Linked DNA regions of Homo sapiens. The protein of the gene in region 3 interacts with the protein of the main gene of each other region in a pairwise test. Each region holds a gene or a part of one and is shown on either strand. Other genes may lie near its edges. The genes, in order: NEDD9, LMO2, TRIM23 and MTFR2.

The links.
Region 1: the proteins of TRIM23 (region 3) and NEDD9 interact in binary tests that used the Homo sapiens proteins (3 or more experiments, as listed by UniProt).
Region 2: the proteins of TRIM23 (region 3) and LMO2 interact in binary tests that used the Homo sapiens proteins (3 or more experiments, as listed by UniProt).
Region 4: the proteins of TRIM23 (region 3) and MTFR2 interact in binary tests that used the Homo sapiens proteins (3 or more experiments, as listed by UniProt).

What each region holds. Positions count from the first base shown.
Region 1 is NC_000006.12:11,229,621-11,236,785, reverse strand, and holds the start of NEDD9 (enhancer of filamentation 1), read left to right. Parts: upstream 1-4,117; 5' UTR 4,118-4,270; coding exon 4,271-4,282; intron 4,283-6,075; exon of another isoform or gene 6,076-6,347; intron 6,348-7,165. UniProt on the Homo sapiens protein: Scaffolding protein which plays a central coordinating role for tyrosine-kinase-based signaling related to cell adhesion. As a focal adhesion protein, plays a role in embryonic fibroblast migration.
Region 2 is NC_000011.10:33,858,072-33,861,120, reverse strand, and holds the end of LMO2 (rhombotin-2), read left to right. Parts: intron 1-1,545; coding exon 1,546-1,765; 3' UTR 1,766-2,545; downstream 2,546-3,049. UniProt on the Homo sapiens protein: Acts with TAL1/SCL to regulate red blood cell development. Also acts with LDB1 to maintain erythroid precursors in an immature state.
Region 3 is NC_000005.10:65,589,160-65,593,351, reverse strand, and holds the end of TRIM23 (E3 ubiquitin-protein ligase TRIM23), read left to right. Parts: intron 1-1,403; coding exon 1,404-1,583; 3' UTR 1,584-1,849; coding exon of another isoform or gene 1,850-1,908; 3' UTR 1,909-3,049; coding exon of another isoform or gene 3,050-3,053; 3' UTR 3,054-3,662; downstream 3,663-4,192.
Region 4 is NC_000006.12:136,233,274-136,240,321, forward strand, and holds part of MTFR2 (mitochondrial fission regulator 2), read right to left. Parts: intron 6,548-7,048; coding exon 6,193-6,547; intron 227-6,192; coding exon 52-226; intron 1-51. UniProt on the Homo sapiens protein: May play a role in mitochondrial aerobic respiration essentially in the testis. Can also promote mitochondrial fission.

The DNA.
Region 1 (7,165 bases), on a different chromosome or scaffold from region 3:
ATTCCAGGAATTAAACACGTAGTGAGCAACGTGGAAGATAGATGACAGCAGTGAGAGAGTTAGGCAAAGAAACTAAAAAGAAATCATTAGAATAGACCAGACCAAGAGATTCAGGGGCCTGACCTCACCACCAATTGCTGTTATAACTCAAACTGGTGGGGCCCTGTGTGAGGCACTCAATCTCTCTGAGCGACAGACAGCTCTGCCCTCTCTATGAGTGGCTGGATTAGGTGATTTCCAAAGTCATTTCCTGCCCTCACATGCTCTTCACTCTTTGCCCTTCACTCTTAGAGAGCAGTCACGTGGGTTCATTCCAAGTTGTCAACAGAAGTATTTCTTCTTTCTAGCCTCCTCTTGATTTTTTGCTGTATTTATGCCAGTGCCCAGTTGCAGCTGGAAAATCATTAGAATGGCATCCGGTGCCATTTCCCTCACTCCTGCCTGCACAAGCATCTGGAAGGAAGAGTGCTTGGTTGAAGAGCAGGCAGGCGGCAAGGATGACAGGAGGGGATGCCCACCGGAGTGCTGGCAAGTGCAGGAAGTGGAACCGGAGGCCCAGAGTTCTAGCCAATTTCAGGAGGGTCTCTATGGGAATCCTAGGGCTGCTGCATAAATCAATTACATAGCCCAGTTTAAACATCATTTTTGCATCTGATAGTAATAAATGAGGAAGGGAATTGTTTCTGTATTCACTGAGACAATTTGTGTTTCCCTGAAGAGTTTTAAGGGCAACATACTAAATGACACTAATAAAGTAACAACTATCTGCATTATTTAAGCTGCATTAAGACCAGAGCTCAATATTTTAACTAGTAGCCTGCTGTCCTTGAGTGTTTAACAAACCGGAGAGAAACAGATTACTCCCTGGTCAAAACACTGCAGAGGCTTCATGTCACACTCAGGAAAAAAATCCAAGCTCCCTACCACCTACCTCTCTGAGCTCATCCTCTCCATCCAGCCCTGTGTACCCCACGCTAAGCACACTAGACAGCTTGCTGCGCTTAGACACACTAAGCTCGTGCCTACTGCGGGCCCTTCCCCTGGGTCACTTCTGTCCGGAATGCTCATCCCCTAGATCTCTGAGTGGCTGGATCCCTGAAACTATTCAGATTTCTGCTTAAATATCATCTCCTCAGAGGAGCTTCCCTGACCACTTTATCTAAAATAATACACCTCCTGTCCCACCCTGGTCTGTTTTCCTCCAGCAATTTTCCCTGCTTAATTTTTCTTCATAGCATTTATCACTGCAAATCATATTATACATTCATTTAATTATTTTCCTCAACTCTCACTAGACTGTAAGCTCCATGAAGATGGGAACTTTGTCTGGGCTACTGCTGTATCCTCCCCTCCTAGAAAGGTACCTGGCACATGCTAGGTGCTCTAGTGATAACAGTTCAGTGAGAAAGCTGCCTTATGAAAGAATGGCACACAGAGAAGGGGTTCCTCCAACTTCTTCTGAATGCCTACCACACTTATCAACAGTAGTCTAATATTAATACTAGTTATAATTAATACAATAATTAAATAATAATCTATAGAATATAGCAATAATGTCATAAAATATTAACAAAATATCATAAATCTGATATTAATTAAAATAATAACTAATAACAACAGTAATAAGAACAAGCAACCATTTAAGGTCTTACAATGTAACAAGTACTATTAAATTCTATCCACATTATCTTATTTAATCCTCATTATGAGGCTAGCAGGTATTATTATTTTCTCTATTTCATACTGAAGGACATCAAAATTAAGAAGTTCAACTGGCCAGGCACAGTGGCCCACGCCTGTAATCCCAGCACTTTGGGAGACTGAAGCAGGTAGATCACCTGAGGTCAGGAGTTCGAGACCAGCCTGGCCAATCTGGTGAAACCCCGTCTCTACTAAAAATACAAAAAATTAGCCAGGTATGGTGGCAGACACATGTAATCCCAGCTACTCGGGAGGCTGAGGGAATTGCTTGAACCAGAGATGCGGGGATTGCAGTGAGCCGATATTGCACCACTGCACTCCAGCCTGGGCAACAAGAATGAAACTTTGTCTCAAAAAAAAAAAAAAAAAAAATTAAAAATGTTTTGAGGTTCCAGCACAGGTTTACCTGATTCCAACACCCTTGTGCTTTCCTTTAGGCAGCTAACTATATACTGACCCAAGCCTTCTTGAAATGAACTTCGGGTAGATTACATGTGTCTTACTTACCTTACAGGACAGAAACAGGAAAGCAGGAGGGCCACTAGCTAGAGAATGAAATTACAAAAAAACCCCAGCACAAACTTTAGGAAACTGTTTGAAAACATTAAAATAGGATGGGACAGCACTCACTTACTCAATGATATTCATCAAACAAAACAGAAAAAGGATTCAGCTTGACCACTTAGGAAGCCAAAGGAATGTTATCTAGATCTCTTGGAGGCCGCAAGACTCATCTTACAGATGGGAAGGGCTTTGAATCATTGTCCTCCTTTATCCAGGTAGACACCAAAAACAATTTCCTGCAAACTAACGACTCTCCGGTCAGTCTGCAGGATTCTTAAGGAGATCGTTACAATGCAATATGCTGCGTGCTTAATTTGTGTTCAGAAAGGCCTTGCACAATCACTCAGGCTTATTTTTGCTCTAAGGACAAATGAGGAGAAGCAAGGCCTAATACAGGCTGGAACAGGTATGTCAACCTCATTAGGATGGCCTGGGGGGTCATGTCCCTGGAATCAGTGCCACACTGAACTGCAAACTAACCTGCCAACCCTGTATCTGGAAACCACTTTTGTAGGACAGCTGTTCTCTCATTCCTTTTGCTTAGATCATAAAAGTAGAGTTTTCATCCATTGGGAATTTGTGTGTTAGACGCGAAGGGAATCAGATTCTGATCCAACTTGGTCAGGAAAAAAAAAAATAAGGGCTGATTTTTCCATCCAAGTCATGTAGTCTGGTTGGAGTGCATCCCACTCAGGGACAGCTATTGTCTGGATTCACCGAGTCTCAGTCTTGCCCGGGAAAAAGGAATTTTTCGCCTCACTGCTCTGTCCGTGAGAAGAGTTGCAGAAGGTGACCATTTCTGTTTTCTGGGTGATTCTCTTTCTCTATAGAAATCCTAAAATGGAACCTTTATAGAAATTATGTTCTGTGCTTCGCTGGAGAGAGACTGGTCTTTTTAACCAGGCTCATCAAACAGTGGGCATTTTCGTTCTCCTGGATAATAAGTGTTGGTGGGTTAATGGGTCATCCTCAGGACAGAGGTCAGAAGGAAAAACACTGCAGTGTTCAAAGCTGGAGCTAGAAATGCCAGCCGTCAAAGAACACAGAACTCAGTGGACGGTGATGATGTATAGGGCGTGCACTGGCCAACCCCATCCGAGAGGTCACATCTAACCTTTATCCTCAGCAAAGCCACTGAAGGTCGCTCAATATGTGTGACCCGCAACTCTGAGGCCCTGGTGAGAAGCTGTCCAGGAAAACGCTGGTGCGTGTGCTAGAGGGTTCCTTTTCACTAAGGGAGAATTGTCTTCCAGCTCCTTGCAGACTGACATCGCAAAGTACTTTGAACGTTGAAAAGAACAAAAAAAGCAAACAGTCACACACACACAAAAAGTAGGCGGGAGGAGGGGGAAAGAAAAAGGGACAGAGAGAGAGAGAGGTATCAGCAGGGGTGGTTAGTAAAAAGGGGCCCGGAGACAGAAAACCTTTTGTTCCCGGAGTTCGTTTCATGTAGAGATTGTGAGGTGAATGGCTTTGAAACGAAATGGGTTTATGAAGGAGTTGCTAGGTCACAGGAAGCGCGACTGTCAGACTGCTTTTGTGAATTCAGTTTCTTTAAAATTTGGGTTAATCTTAAAAAGAATGTATCTCCTTTTCCTGTTCTTTCTCTTTCTGTCTTCTTTTTTGGCGGGGGCGGGAGGACAGAGTAAGGTTCAGGACGGTTCCCCACTTTCTGTTTTATTTTCCACCGTCTGATAAAGCAAAAAGAAGCGATCACATTACAAGTTCTTTGTCAGTTTTTCAGAATTAGGGGTGGGCAGGGCCTGAGCATTACCTTGTCCCACTAGCCAATGGCGGGGCGGCATGCAAATGAGGTCCGCGATCAGCCTGCCTCAGTCACAACAGTGAGCTCAGAGACTTGAGGGAGGCGCTGCGACTGACAAGCGGCTCTGCCCGGGACCTTCTCGCTTTCATCTAGCGCTGCACTCAATGGAGGGGCGGGCACCGCAGTGCTTAATGCTGTCTTAACTAGTGTAGGAAAACGGCTCAACCCACCGCTGCCGAAATGAAGTATAAGGTAAGAGAGTGCCTTTTACAGGTTACCTTGCAAGCTGAAAGCTGTGCCTGCGGGTGTGTGCTTGTGTATGCGTGTTCCTTACTGTCAGTCCCTTGTGTGTCCCGGAGAGTTCTAAGATGAGTCTCGGTCACTGAGGTTGACATGCAAGCAGACAAGCAAGCAGAGACCCGGTCTTTGAGACCCACTCCAGGGGTTCACAGTACACCCGAGTCCATCTGCTCTGAAAGTTGCCGGGGAAATACCTCGGTGAGAAGTTAAGACTTGGAGCCGCTTCACAGCAGCCACTGGAGATCAGAGGGTGTCTGACTTGAATCGCGGCAGGCATTGGCTCAAGTCTCCTTGGCTTCCCCAGGCCTGGCTTCCACTGCCCTGGGGAACTGTAATGAGAGGAATGAGGACTGCATAGTCTGTCTCAGACTGGCTCTTAGTGCAAAGTTTTCCAGACTTTGCTTTAATCGTTTGGTCTCGGAAGGAGTATGCCATATGCACTTTTGGTGGGAGAAATTAAAAGCCCAGATTACACAGCTGAGGATGGAAAATTTTGACATCCTTATGTTATATTGGATGTAGGAATAAATAAGTATGAGCCATTTCTTGAAAACATTTTTATTGGAGTTTGAATGGGGTGAGAGTGCGAAGGCTCAGGCTGGCTCATTGTGCCTGAAAGCTTACAGAGTGTCATAGTCATAGTACTTCAGCAGCATTATTTTCCAATGCATTTTACACCATTGTTTGTGGATTTTTCTTGCCAAAAGGATTTTTGACTTGCTCCGTATATTCCCCCCTCCCCTTTTTCTTTTAAGTCACTCCCATCTAAGGAGGCAAGCAGCTTCCAGGGGACACAAAGAAAGCAGACTGCAATGAATTGGACATGAATTTTTCTTGAATGATGAATAGACATGAGTGCTAGTGCTACTATTTTATTTTATGCTATTTTAAACAAAAGTGTTATTATTAAGATGGATTTGGGCAAGGGTGCTAGGCTTGTGGATTGACAATTTATATTAACTGTACACTAGCTGGAAGCTACTTCGCTTTTTTTCTAAATTTTTCTGGTCCATCCTTTTTTGATGTAAGGTTGTAAATACTTGGTCTAACTGATAGCCACTGACTAGCCTCAGTAATAAAGCTTTTGTTCAAAAACTATGAATCTTATTCAAAAGCTTTAAGTCTAAATGTCAAAAGTCTTTATAGTAATGCCTACGTTACCACTGTCTGAAGACACAGGTATCAGCTATTTCTGTTTCATCAGCTTTCTATTATCTTCATCAGTAGGGAAGATCAGAGGAAAGGGTCATCCTGAAGACTATTAATATTTGACTTTAGGATGCAACCAGAAACAAATCCCTCTACTTGGCAGGAAAGTTATCTTCCTTAAAGTGGCTCACCCCATATTTCCTTATTTAGAACAATGATAGGACCAGATATTACTCAGCCTGGAGTGACTTTTTTGCTCCTCCTTTCCCTGTTGTTGAATAAGAACTGGCTTGCAGAAAAAAGAGAAAGTATGTTCATATGTCTATTATTGGAAAGTATAAATGGCTGAAATTAACATTGAGTGCTATAATCTAGAAAGTGACGAAAGCGACAAAGTCTCAAGTCACTTTTATTCAATGATCTCATCGTGGTTAGCTTTACTCTTTATGGAAAGAAAATCTAAAGGCAACTGATAAAGTGACTGACAGCGTAAACTGCGATTGGCATTCATGGAGAAACCTGCTTCTCCACTGGGCCTTACTGGTGTTGAACACCTTGCCAAATGATGTAAATACATGATTTTTATTACCTTGTAGGCACCTTCACCAGCAAAAAAGCTAACTTCTCCGACCGAACACATGACTTATGCCCTATGATGACTATTAAATCAACCAATAGCTGAAGAAATCCACTTTCCTTTTTTATAAAGTTTTCTTTCTCTCTAGTTAATAATGAACAACTTTACTTCAGGAAAGGATTTTGTTATTGTAAGTAGAGGAGAGACACAAAAGTAATGAAGTAACATTAATTGAGACTTACTGTGACAACACAAGATTGTCATATTCAACTCTCCCAATAGCTCTACAAGGTGGGTATTATTTTTATACTCAATTTCAAATGACACAGAGAGGCTAAGTAATTTATCTAATGCCACACAGCTAGAAAGTGGTGAGCTGGGATTAGAACTAAGGCGATCTGGCTCCAGAACTCATGACTTTAACCACTATTAAGAGAAAGAGAAAGAGCTATCGTTGACCTCTCTAAAATATGGCCAGTGTTTTCTTCTCCCAGAAAGTTTAAGACTATTTCATCCCAAGTATTCCTGCAGGATAATTTCTTTTTAAGATAGTAACTCTACAAAGCAAAATGAAGTGCATGTTTGGCAGTTATTTGTTTAATTCGAGCCACTTAGGTAGTAAAACCAGATAATTATTAGATGGTAAAATCCCAGAGACAGGAATTATCTCTAAAATACTACGTTGCTCTATGCACTGTAAATTTAGCACAAACCTTAAAATGTTTACTGAAAGACTTATGAATCAGGCCCTATAAGATTGTCGTTGTTAACCTGATTATCTGGTTTGGCTGCCCCAGGGATCACAACTACGGAACAACAAACCTTCACTTATTTTGCACTTAATATACATAGCTTCAGGCCAGGCAGCAAGGTACTTGCAGTAATCCTGAGAACTGTGGAATGTAAGCTATTACTCCGGACAGACATTTCTGGTTAGCACTTATCTAATCTGTCTTTATTTCCCTGTATGTTTTTATTTGTCCACAGGAAGGTTGCAGTCACTGTCATACGTACTTAATTTTCCATTTCTCTTAGAAGGGATTCAGTCTGTGGTTATGTGATAGTAAATTACGGGGGCTTCATTTATTAAGAATTTTCTACAAAATCCC
Region 2 (3,049 bases), on a different chromosome or scaffold from region 3:
AGCCCTTGACCATGGGTGCCCTGACATGCTTCGTTTGGTTGTTTTAACAGCTGAGTGAGGTGGAGCCTATGATGGCTGCCATTTCACTGAGGCTCAGAGAATCAGAGGTCTCTCCAGGGTCACTCAGGGCTGGTCCGGGACATTGAAGCTGGGTCTTCTCTGCTTCCGGTACTTGTGTTACTGCACTTTTGCTGTTGATTCTCAAATGTCAGCCTGCAACCAGTCCCCCGGAAGTGTTCATTAACGCACAGACTGCTGGGCCTTCTCCCCAGGGTGTCTCAGTTGGGTAGGGAAGGAGGAGGGCTGAGAATTTGTTTTTTTGTTTGTTTGTTTAGTTTTTGCTTTTCTTTTGAGTCAAGGTATGGCTCTGTGGCCCAGGCTGGAGTGCAGTGGCATGATCTCGGCTCACTGCAACCTCCACCTCCCGGGCTAAAGCCATCCTCCCACCTCAGCCTCCCAAGTATTAATAGCTGAGACTAGAGGCATGCACCACCGCACCCGGCTAATTTTTGTATTTTTTGTAAAGACACAGTTTCACCATGTTGCCCAGGGTGGTCTCGAACTTGTGAGCTCAAGTGATTTGCCTGCCTCAGCCTCCCAAAGTGTTGGGATTACAGGTGTGAGCCACTGCGCCCAGCCTGAGAATTTGTATTTCTGTCAGGTTCCCAGGCAGTGCTGATGTCGCTGGTCCCAGGACCAACACTTTGAGAACCACTGCACTGAGCCCTGCCATGTTCTGTCTCCCACCTTGACACTGAATACTGCCTGAAATAAGTGACTGATCAACTGAGGCTTGGGAGAGTCTTGATTTAAATGTCAGAAAAGAAGTTTCCCTTTTGATTCATGCCAGTGGGCAGCGAGGGCCATGAATTAAGATCCTCCCTTCATGGTGGAGAGATGCTGTTGGTCCTCCATATCTCAGAGGCACGATTAGCTGCACCGCGTGTTTTCTGTGGAACTCCCTGTCTCCCAGCAGCTGGGGCCCCAGCGAATAATCAGGGGGAGATGTGCTTTGCAGCTTATGGAGGTATTCAAGGCCAGCTCTCCCCATGGGTAGAATCAGTGGCTGTTGACATGATAGAGTTTGGGAGCCTCAGAAGAATGCCCGTTTTATTGCATTCCTGGTCAGTACCCTCTCAAAGGGGCCCCTAGGGTCTCTCTCCAGCTGCTCTTCTGAAATGAGGGTTCCCCTGGGAGGGGACAGGTAATACTTGCCTAACTCCTTATGATAGATCACATCAGCTGAGAGCCTTGCCCACAGAGGAGGAGCCAGGGGGCAGCCTAGGGGAATGATGAGCGGTTGCTGCAGACAAGGAGAGGGCTCAGAAAAGGGAGGAGTTATGCCAGATCCAAATGCCAGTTTCATCTGAGTTCCCTCTGCCTGCTGGTGAAGACTGCACTAGCCGGCCCTCCTTCTGGAGCCGACCTTCCCTGGCTTCCTGACATCCTGAAAGTTCGGCCTCCTTTCTAGGGCTCATCCCCGAGCCCTGTCTTCCAGGATTGTCCCTTTCACTGTCTTCTTAGCTTTTCTTTCTTTTGCCCCAGGCTTTTTGGGCAAGACGGTCTCTGCGCATCCTGTGACAAGCGGATTCGTGCCTATGAGATGACAATGCGGGTGAAAGACAAAGTGTATCACCTGGAATGTTTCAAATGCGCCGCCTGTCAGAAGCATTTCTGTGTAGGTGACAGATACCTCCTCATCAACTCTGACATAGTGTGCGAACAGGACATCTACGAGTGGACTAAGATCAATGGGATGATATAGGCCCGAGTCCCCGGGCATCTTTGGGGAGGTGTTCACTGAAGACGCCGTCTCCATGGCATCTTCGTCTTCACTCTTAGGCACTTTGGGGGTTTGAGGGTGGGGTAAGGGATTTCTTAGGGGATGGTAGACCTTTATTGGGTATCAAGACATAGCATCCAAGTGGCATAATTCAGGGGCTGACACTTCAAGGTGACAGAAGGACCAGCCCTTGAGGGAGAACTTATGGCCACAGCCCATCCATAGTAACTGACATGATTAGCAGAAGAAAGGAACATTTAGGGGCAAGCAGGCGCTGTGCTATCATGATGGAATTTCATATCTACAGATAGAGAGTTGTTGTGTACAGACTTGTTGTGACTTTGACGCTTGCGAACTAGAGATGTGCAATTGATTTCTTTTCTTCCTGGCTTTTTAACTCCCCTGTTTCAATCACTGTCCTCCACACAAGGGAAGGACAGAAAGGAGAGTGGCCATTCTTTTTTTCTTGGCCCCCTTCCCAAGGCCTTAAGCTTTGGACCCAAGGAAAACTGCATGGAGACGCATTTCGGTTGAGAATGGAAACCACAACTTTTAACCAAACAATTATTTAAAGCAATGCTGATGAATCACTGTTTTTAGACACCTTCATTTTGAGGGGAGGAGTTCCACAGATTGTTTCTATACAAATATAAATCTTAAAAAGTTGTTCAACTATTTTATTATCCTAGATTATATCAAAGTATTTGTCGTGTGTAGAAAAAAAAACAGCTCTGCAGGCTTAATAAAAATGACAGACTGAAATACAGTGTTGTTTATTTGATTACGACTTATAATTTGGGATGGCGGGGAAATGCTCTGCTTTTTCTTTTCTAAAGGAGAAGCAAATAAGCAATTTACTCTTAGGTCAAATAAAAACTTCTGTGTATTGCAAGGGTTTGTATGAGGCAGGCACATTTCTATATTACTGGCAATTATGTAACAGGTCATCATGTAGCTCAGAGGAATGTAGAATAATTAAATTGTTATTGTACAATATGCATTTCACTTCAGCATTGTATGGAGTGAGTGGAAGGCAAGATCATTGCCTTTGGGAAACTTGTAACCTAGAAAGGACACAAATACATAAAGCAGATTCCCTTTGGGAGAGAAGGTAATTACCTAGTTTGAAATGTGGCAAAGATGCTGAGCTTGACACTTCGATTTTCCAAGACGGGTGTCTCAGGGTGTTTTATGACAAGTGGTTAAGAGGACCTTTACTTTGCGGATTTAAAGCAGGCACCTTGGTTTGTGTGTTTGCCTTCCCCG
Region 3 (4,192 bases):
GCGATTCTTCTGCCTCAGCCTCCCAAGTAGCTGGGATTACAGGTGCTTGCTACCACACCCGGCTAACTTTTGTATTTTTAGTAGATTCAGGGTTTCATCGTGTTGGTCAGGCTGGTCTCAAACTCCTGACCTCAAGTGATCTGCCCGCCTCATCCTCCCAAAGTGCTGGGATTACAGGTGTGAGTCACTGCGCCTGGTCAACACTGTTCGTGGGTTATTAAACTGAGACATTTTCTTGGAGGACAATTTGGCAATACTCATCAAAGTCCCTTACCCTGCAATTCTACCTTTATATATCTGGTAGACAGATATCCAAAGGTTATCCTACAGATAATTTTGCAAATATACATAAATGTATGTCAACTTTTGTGTATGTATGTTTATGTATGTATGTGTATATATATGGATTTATAATAGCACATAAGCATAAAACTTCAATCTGAACATTCAGTATAGGACTGGTTAAATTATGTTGCAGCCACACAATGGAAGGGAATTCTGATATTAAAAATAATGCAGACCATCTGTGCTGATAATGGAAAGATACTCATCTTCAACATGTTTACGTAAAAAACAAACAGAAAACCCTGCAAGTTATAGAAAGTCTAAACTATGTTCCTGTTTGTGTCTCTTTGCATGAGTGTGCATGGAAATTTTCTGGAAAAATATGTTGTAACTGGTGGTTGCTCCTGGGAAGTTGGGGCAATGGGTGTTCAGAGTGGGAATGTAGTGAACTCTTCAATATATAACCCTATATATAAACCATTTATTAAGGTTTCTATGTGTTAATTTTTTTTTTTTAAGTTGATGCCTTACACTTAGGCAGGCCAGGCGTGGTGGCTCATGCCTGCAATCCTTGCATTTTGGGAGGCTGAGGTTGGTGGATCACTTGAGGTCAGGAGTTCGAGACCAGCCTGACTAACATGGTGAAACCTCATCTCTACTAAAAATACAAAAAAATTAGCCGGGCATGGTAGCACATGCCTGTAATCCCAGCTACTTGGGAGGCCAAAGCAGGAGAATCGCTTGAACCAGGAGGCAGAAGTTGCAGTGAGCCAAGATCATGTCACTGCACTCCAGTCTGGGTGACAGAGTGAGACTCTGTCTCAAAAGATAAAAAAATTACTTAGGCAGTATGTTTCCTTTTAGGTTGCAAGGACTTTATTGATTTCATTGTTAAGCTAGCCTTACAAAGTATATACATACACACACATATAAATTAGTTAAACCAAACTAATTTTTTCTATTCTTATTAATCTCAGAATAATTACTGAAAGATGAATCTAGGTTTTTTGTTTAGGCTTCTGTTAGAACACTGTCAACAAATTTCTCTATAAATGGTGATAATTAGAAAAATTATAATTTGGATGGACTGATAAAAAATATGTGTATATATCTTTCAGGATGTTGCTGGAGCACTGTCAGTAGAAGAAATCACTGAACTACTCAGTCTCCATAAATTATGCTGTGGCCGTAGCTGGTATATTCAGGGCTGTGATGCTCGAAGTGGTATGGGACTGTATGAAGGGTTGGACTGGCTCTCACGGCAACTTGTAGCTGCTGGAGTATTGGATGTTGCTTGATTTTAAAGGCAGCAGTTGTTTGAAGTTTTGTGGTTAAAAGTAACTTTGCACATAGTATGTTTTAAGAAATTATACATCTCAAAAGATGGTAATTTAGGATGCATATATATATATATATATATAAAGGAATCTTGGATTGGGAATTCAGTACTTTGCTTTAAAAAAATTTTGTGGCAGAATTAAATTTCTAATTGAGCAGATTAGATTGAATTAAATAGAAACTTATTGAATATACATTCTTTTAAAAAGTATATTTGTTATTTAAGTTTTTCAGATAATATGTGACCAATATACTGGGAAAGAGGTAGTCACAGAGAAAGGGTAAGTGAAGGTTTATTCTTTCAGTGAAAAAAGAATAGCCAATTGAGTGCCTAATGAGACCTCTGTGTGAAGCAAGTGAAGTATAGCTGCTTCTTTTAACCTGCCTTTTCACTGAATGTTGGCAGCATTTAGTAGTAGAAATGACAGTTGCTTAATGAAATAGAATCCAAACTACATATTTGGATAATAGGATTACTTTATGTTTATGTTCAGAGTTAACAGAACACCTTTAATGCTAAGAACTATAAGGTACAGAAAATTAATACTTTATATAGTGTTTTATTAACTTTCTCCTACAGCATTTTGTATAAAACACAATGAGGGAGTGAAATGTTACCCAATTAGGCTTGTCAGGTTAGTAATAAACTGAACAGTAATAAAACTGTGGAAGTAATTGGATCTGAATTTATGAAAGACCCATTTCCAGGACTGAACCTAGGTCAGAGCTCTAAATTGGTCCTTCTATTTTTCAACAAATTTAAAGTAATATTTCTTTCTAATATAATATTGCATCCTTTGTGGGAATGACTATAGGTAAAATGTAGTAAGTAACGCAGAACCAGGGTTGGCTTTATTTAAAAGCTAGTGACCTAAATAGAAAGCGAACTTCAAGAGAAGTTGTAAGTACAGTGGCAAATGCTTATTACTTACTTCAAACTGTTTCCCAAAATAAGTGCATTTATTTTGACAATAAAACTTAAGGCTGTTCATGAGAAGGCCTTGAAAAGTTACTCTAGAGGAAAAATGTCTAAAGAAAAAAAAAATTCAAAAAGTTTACATTAATTATTCAGTGTTGTGAGTAAATAAAAATGTGTGCTCTTTACTGTTTTTCATTTTTAAAGAATATTATTATGGAAGCACGATTTATTTAAATAGGTACATTGAGACTTTTTTTTTTTTAATGTTCTGATACATTAGGATGAAGTTAAATCTTAAATCTTATTAGTTGAATTGTTGTAAGGACAGTGATGTCTGGTAACAAGATGTGACTTTTTGGTAGCACTGTTGTGGTTCATTCTTTTCAAATCTATTTTTGTTTAAAAACAATACAAGTTTTAGAAAACAAAGCATTAAAAAAAAAGCCTATCAGTATTATGGGCAATATGTAAATAAATAAATGTAATATTTCATCCTTTATTTTTCAGGTAAAAGGTCATGCTGTTACAGGTGTAGTTTGTGTGCATAAATAATACTTCCGAATTAAATTATTTAATATTTGACTGATTTCAATAACTGTGAAAAATAAAAAAGGTGTTGTATTGCTTGTGAGAACTTGAACTGTTTACTAGTTAATTGAAGAAAAAGTGTAACACTAAGGTGAACTTGCTTCCCTTTTCACTAATTTTGCTAAACTTTGTAATGCACATTCTTAGCATATAACTGAACACAGTTGAAAAATTGTGCCTGATTATAATGTATGTATAATGGTAGGTGTTTGTGTGTGATTCATTTTTAAAGAAATATTTTTCTCAAGCTCCTATTACTATTTGTGGTTGTATTATTTCACTAATCATTAGTTAAGACTGTGCTAGTCTTCCCTGGGAAACTAAGAAGAGAGCTTTTTTATATACAGTATATTAGAATTTTCCTAGTAGCTGAATTTCTGTATTAGGTCTAAATATTACTGTATGTTATATAAAGCAGGTATGTCAAGTGTATAGCCGTAGTCTATAATTCAGGAATGCTTTATAACCATCAGAAGCCATTATTTGCACTACATATATGATAAGTATAGACAGCAATAAAATGTTAAGATCATTTTTAAGAAGTCCCATCATTATTCTTGAAAGTCTCTTTCTTGAACCATCTACCTAATATTATTGCTAGTTGTAACCAATTTAAGAAGTCATTATTTGTGCTGTGGTTAGGAGAGAAAATAAAACAAAATGGGTATGGGTTGGCATGCCTGTCAAATTTGAGATGTAGTTTATTTGATACAGCAAAATTTTAGAAATAACGTTTTGAATTTGCAACATAGGCCACATTTACTGATGAGAACAGATACTAAACTTGATCTTAACTACACCTGATCTTAGCCAAAAGGCCGAGAAGTAATGTGCAGGCCACATTTAAATAAGTAATATAACCATAGTGTTTTGAAGGCGGAGCTAAAGTTTTACATTGAACGAAGTGAAACTTTGTTACTGCCTTTTAAATTTTAAATGTAAACTTGTTTCATAAGAAAACATAGTATTTTAAATGACCATTTTAGAAAATGGCTTGCAAAACTTAGTGGTAGCTCATGAACTAATACTGCTAAGAGAAAGGCTTTTTATGTAACACTGGGA
Region 4 (7,048 bases), on a different chromosome or scaffold from region 3:
CAACACATCTGAGAAAAACTGAAAAATTAATTTTACATTAGTGTAGCTTACCCTTGAAGTTTCTGGACTAGAAAATGGGGAAGATTCCCAAGATCTATTCTCTTTCTCAAAAGAATCATCTTCTTGAAATGCAAATTTCTGTTTAAGTGCATGAGATATTAAAGAAACTGGATCCCAATGTGAATTCTGTCTTTTCCTCTTATGAATGGGTCTACCGCCAGGTGACCTATTTTTTAAAAAAAAAAATTGAATTTATTAAAACTTGGATGTAATTTTAGCTCCTTGTTGACAAACATGGCAGGAATACAAGCATATCTTACAATTTAATTAGTCTTCAAGAGATTGAAAATAATCTAATCTTCAAGAAATTTTCGCAATGAAATAAGGAAGGCACAATGAATGAAGAATCAGAAAACCAAGAACCCATGTGACTTGAGACTCTGCCATAACCTTGTTATGACCTGAGATTTGTCAGATGTCACTATGCTGAAGATCTTTATTATGGTAATTTTCTAATTTCCTAATGGGTAGGAAAATTCAAATAAATAAGAACTTTTAAAAGGACGAGAGTTCATGCCAAAAAAAAAAAAATTACGCAAATTGTTCATTTGTTTGGTTGTTCATTCATTTAATCTTCATTGAATGCCCACTACCACATCCGACTCCATTTTATGCTTTGGGAGTATTCTGCTCCCAATTCTTACAGCAAGATTATCATCAATATACAAGTAAGATCATTTGGCTGGTAATAAGAGCTGTGAATAAAACAAAACAGAGGCTGGGCACGGTAGCTCATGCCTATAATCCCAGCACTTTAGGAGGCCAAGGTGGGAGGACTGCCTGAGCCCAGGAGTTCGAGAGCAGCTTGGGTAACATAGCGAGACCCCATCTCTAGAAAAAATTTAAAAATTAGCCAGGCAACTACTTGGGAGGTTAAGGCAGGAGGATCACTTGAGCCAAGGAGGTCAAGCCTGCAGCAAGTCATGGCACCACTACACTCCAGCCTGGGTGACAGAGCAACACCCTGTCTCAAAAAAAAAAAAAAAAAACTAAATTAAAAAATAAAAAATAGGGAAATGTAATAGTGATTAGGGACAGAAGCACTTTAGATATGATCAGAAAAAAAGCCTCTTTAAGGAAGCAACATCCTCTTTAAGAAAATGACAAGGGGTCAGTTTTAGTGTAAACATCTGGGGCTGCATCAGGAAGGAGCTTGGCATGTGTGAGAAACGGAAAAAAGAAAGCAACTGCAGCTGGAGTGCAGTGGGCAAACATGGGGCATAGGAGAGGAGCTCAGCGAGAGAAGTGAGGGCTGGCTCCTGGAGGGGCCTACGGACACAGCAAGGGCTCTAGAACTGATTCAAGCACAACGGAAACCCACAGAAGAGTCTGAAGCAGGAGAATGGCCTGATCTGACTTCTGGTCACTATCTGCAGAATAAATAAGGAGGCAAGAATGAAAACAGATCACTGAGGAGGCTGCTGCGGAAGTCTAAGCTAGATAAGAATGGGCTTAGCCTGGGGAGTTGGCAGTGGAGGTCAAGAGGTCCACAGAATTGAGCTATGTGCTGATGGGAACGGTGGGAGATAGAATGGAAAATAAAGATGAAGGATGATTCCTAGATATTTGTTTTTGTTTTTTTGAGACGGAGTCTCGCTTTGTCACCAAGGCTGGAGTATAGTGGCTCACTGCAACCTCCGCCTCCCGGGCTCAAACAATTAATTCTCCTGCCTCAGCCTCCTAGTAGCTGGGATTACAGGTGTGCGCCATCATGTCAGGGTAATTTTTGTATTTTTAGTAGAGACTGGGTTTCACCATGTTGGCCAGGCTGGTCTCGAACTCCTGACCTCGAGTGATCTGCCCACCTCAGCCTCTCAAAGTGCTGTGTTTACTGGTGTGAGCCACCGCACCTGGCCTGATTCCTAGATCTTAAGCAACCGGGTGATCGTGTTGCCATTTGCTAATATGCAAAAGACGTGGGAAAGAACAGGTTTTCAAGGTGGCGGAAAAGAACAGGTAGGAAGGAAAAGTCCTGTTTTGGACCTGTGAAACGAGATACCTGTGAGACAGGCAAATAAAGATGTCAAGTAGGCATTTCAGTATGTGCATCTGGGCTCAAGAGGAGAGGTCAGGGCTAGAAAAATAAACGTTTGAGTCATAAGCATACAGCTGGTATTTAGAGTCATAGGACTAGGTGAGCTCACCAAAGGAAACAGCATGGACAGAGAAGAGAGGGGGCTGAGGTCTGAACCAGGTATTTCAACATTTAAAGACCAGGCCCAGGGGGAAGAGTTTAAGGAATAAGAAGGAATAGCTGATGAGGTCAGAGGAAACCTGGGGGTATGCTTTCCCAGAAACCAAGTAAAGAAAGTGCTCCAGGCTAGGCGCAGTGGCTCATGCCTGTAATCCCAGCACTTTGGGAGGCCAAGGTGGTCGGATCATGCGGTCAAGAGATCGAGACCATCCTGGCCAATACGGTGAAACCCTATCTCTACTAAAAATACAAAAATTAGCTGAGCATGGTGGCACATGCCTGTAGTCCCAGCTACTCGGGAGGCCGAGGCAGGAGAATCACTTGAATCCAGGAGGCAGAGGTTGCAGTGAGCCGAGATCACGCCACTGCACTCCAGCCTGGCAACAGAGCGAGACTCCGTCTCAAAAAAAAAAAGAAAGTGCTCCAAGGAGGTGGGGACCATAGGCTGTATCAAATGCTGCCAAGAGGTCAACTAAGACGAGCAATGCTAAGAGACCAGTGGATTTAGCCACATGGAGTCACTGGTGAAGCAGTTTTCAATGGAGTTTTCATGGGTAGAAGGCAGCAGCGATAGACAGAAACAAATTATAGACGACTTCAAGAATTCATATCAGAAAGGGGAGCAGAACAACAGAACAACGGCTGAGAGTACATGTGTTTTGAAGGTGGGAAGTACTCAGGTGTGAGGAGAAGGATGAAGTATAGAAGGAAGACTCAGTGATGCAGAAGGGCTCATTTTAAGTGAAATCCTTGTGAAGAGGAAAGAGAAGGGAAACCAGTAACCAAAGGAAGAGCCTGGCCATGAATGATGACACTTGGCTCCCAACAGCAAGATGGAAGGCAGAGAATCTGCACGGGGAATCTGTAGGTGTAAAGAGGTGAGAGAGCTCATCTGATTCCTCAGCAACGTACAAAACAAAGTTAGCTGTAGAGGCAACTCAGGAGAGAATAGGGGGACAGGAGGCAGAGGCTACTGGCCTTTTAGTTGTTTTTCCAGTGATGGTAACAGTCACAGAGTTGCCACTTGATACTAAGCCCGACAACACAAGTACAAGATCTAGTTGGGACCAAGCATGCACCTACAGCCATGAGATTCTTCTCAACAAGCTGCCTCATGCTCTTCCTGTGGTTACTGGTTTCCCTTCTCTTTCCTCTTCACAAGGATTTCACTTAAAATGAGCCCTTCTGCATCGTTGCAAGGATCAAACTCACAACCTCATTAAAAACAGAACTGACTTATCTGTCCCAGGACTATCATACAGAAAATATATCTATTTTCTCACCGAAAACCTCACTGAGGGATTTCCAAGTAAGCATGGCAAATCCCTTGTGAAATCCTACTAAAATGACAGTAAAGAAATGAAAAAGATCTATATATCCACAAGGACAAAGAGATTAGAAGGGGAGACAGGAGATAAGAATTGCAACCAGATGCCGGAAGCTGGAAAGCTGATGAAAGTGAGAGCATGGGGCGTGGGCGCCCTGCTGAACACAGGGCGTGTGCTAAATAAGACACTTCTCTCTTGCTCCTCTTTCCCCACTCAGCTCTCCAATGACCTGACTTGCACCCGCTGTGTAATCCCCATCCCTCCTGACCACAAGGGAGAATGAAGAACTTTCTAAGGAAAATCCTGTAGCCCAAAAGAAAAGACATACAGCTCTGGGGTGTGGCCAACAAAATGGTCCTCTCCCTAATCACTAAACTGTGAAGCTCCCAAGTTGATAAGCCCACCTCACACAAAGAACATGCGATCAGCTTTTCCTTGCCTCATTTTAAATAAGAATCACCAGATGCTTACCCAAGGCTACAAAACTAAAGATAGAGATCAAAGCTAAAAGGAAAAAAGAAACTCACAAAAAATACAGTAATTCAAGAACAGAGGAAACTTAAAACAAACCTACACTTTTAATACTGTCAGTGGGATAAGACCAACAAAACCAAAAAGATTTTAACAAGAAGCATTTGAAGAAAAAGAAACAGCTCTTAAAAATTAAAAATGTGGGCCAGGTGTGGTGGCTCACACCTGTAATCCCAGCACTTTGGGAGGCCGAGGCCGGCAGATCACAAGGTCAGGAGTTCATGACCAGCCTGGCCAACATGGTGAAACCCTGTCTCTACTAAAACTACAAAAATTAGCTGGGCATGGTGGCACGTGCCTGTAATCCCAGCTACTCGGGAGGCTGCAGCAAAAGAATTGCTTGAACCAAGACCCAGGAGGCAGAAGCTGCAGTGAGCCAAGATCATGCCACTGCACTCCAGCCCGGGCGACAGAGCCAGACTCCATCTAAAAAAAAAAAAGAATAAAAGAACATTTTTGGACATGCAAAGTAGTAAACTAATCTACCCTTTATGTTTCTCAGGAAGCTATAGGAAGATATGACATTTAGGAAATCAGTGATGCAGCATAGAAAAAAGGGGGCAAGAATGCTCAAGAGGTAAGCGAAGGAAATCCTTCAGGCACAGAGGGATCCTTGAGGAGAATCACCAAGAACTAAATGGAGGGTCATCCAAAAATTAGAAATAGAACTACCCTATGATCCAGCAATCCCACTTCTGGGTACTTATCCAAAAGAAGTGAAATCAGCATCTCAAAGAGATATCTGCACACCCACATTCATTGCAGTGCTATTTACAATAGACAAGACATGGAAGCAAACTAAATGTCTATCAACAGATGAATGGATTAAGAAATGGGATATATACATACAATATACAGCATGCTAAGTGAAATAAGCCAGTCACAAAAAGATAAATGCTGCATGATTCACTTATATGAGGCATCTAAAGTAATCAAACTGGGCCAGACACAGTGGCTCTTGCCTGTAATCCCAGTACTTTGAGAGACCGAGGCAGGAGGATCACTTGAGCCGAGTTCAAGACCAGCCTGGGCAACACAGTGAAATCCTGTCTCTATTTTTTTTAATAAGATAAAATAAAAAATAAAGTAATCAAACTATAGAAGTAGAAAGAAGAATGGCAGTTGCCAGGGGATGAGGGGAGAGGGAAATGATTACTGTTCAGTGAGTATAAAATTTCAGTTATGCAAGATGAAAAAGCTCTAGAGATCTGTTGTACAACATTGTGCTTAACGATACTGTATTATACACATAAAAATTTGTTAACAGAATAGAGCTCATTATGTTTTTTCACCACACACACACACACACACACACACACACATGGAACTCAGAGAGGCAATTATTAACTCTAAAAAAATTATTCAACAAATAAAATGTAGTCAAAATATATGAAATGGGGCCAGGCACAGTGGCTCACACCTGTAATCCCAGCGCTTTGGGAGGCCAACATGGGCAGATCGCTTGAGCTCAGGAGTTAGAGACCAGCCTGGGCAACATGGCGAAACCCCATCTCTACAAAAAAATACAAAAATTAGCCAGGCATGGTGGCACATGCCTATAGTCCCAGCTACTAAGGAAGCTGAGGTGGGAGGATCACTTGAGCCCAGGAGGTCGAGGCTGCAGTGAGCTGTAATTTCAACACTGCCCTACAGCCTGGGTTACAATATGAGAAATGGCTTACTGTGGATGTTCACTGTTATAATAAGGATATTAATTCTGAATACTCATTTAACTAAAGATTGTGGTTTAACTATTTCAGGAAGACGTGGCAAGATGTGTGTGTGTGTCCTGGGTAGAGTATCTAAGAAAATATATTCCTAATATCCTACAATTGGAAGTCAACATAATTAAAATATCAAGAAATAGCAAATAAGTATGTTGTTTCAAAAATATGGTGATAAGAGACTAGAAGAAGAAATAGTCAAAAATAATTGAATGTCATTATCTCTAGGAGAGGTATTCAGGGGTGAAGAAGAATAAGAAAAAAGACATATATGTTAATTTTCATAAACATAATAATTTTTCTAAACATAAAATTGACAAAATTTCAGTTCACTTTTCAAATTACAACAACATACCGCTCAATTGCACGAAGCTTAACCTTATTCATATCCTTTAGAACGTCCAACATGTTTGGAATATCTTTATTTCTCTGGCTTTTTGAATGATGACTATAATTGGTCTTATTAGCAGCCGGGTTCTGTTTGCTCATTTCAGTTGCTGGATTATCTGAGTCACAAATATTATTAGATCCTGGTTGTACGGGAGGAAAACACGGTGGCTGGAGAGATGAAAACTGAGGAGGAAGTGGTGGAGGAGGAGGAGGAGAAAGCACTGAACCTGGAAGCTGATCTGGGTCCACACTCAGATGGGCAGCCCGCGATGATGACAGCTGACCCAAACTAATGCGCTCGTCACTCAAGCCAAAGGAACCTACAAACAAAGTGGTTTATTACAAAATCATGCACAATTATCTCTAACGTAATATATATTAATAACACTAATTAGAACCAAAACAGGAGCAATTTCTGTAATGCTAGTAGCGATATGGTAGCAAGGAAAGAGTGTCAATCCCATCTGCTTAGTAATTTAAGAGTCAAGTCAAATTGTGAATTCATTTTTAATCCAGTTAGGAATTTTCAGTGTAGGTCCAAGAGCAGAGCGGGGAGGAGAATGCATCTTAAACAAACAAAAAAAAGAGTTTTTTCAGTAATTCACATACACTCTGAACTTCATCCTCTATTTTAAAAAAGCTAAAACAGAAATCAACAACTTGTAGTTAGAAACACAAATTGATGTATTCACTGTATAATGACATTGGAGAAATAAGCATATTATTTTCTAAGCAAAGCTTAAGATGGGTACTGAGTATTTAACTTTTCCACTTTAAGATTTGCTCATAAAGGACTGTGGGTAAACACGATTGCTTAAGAA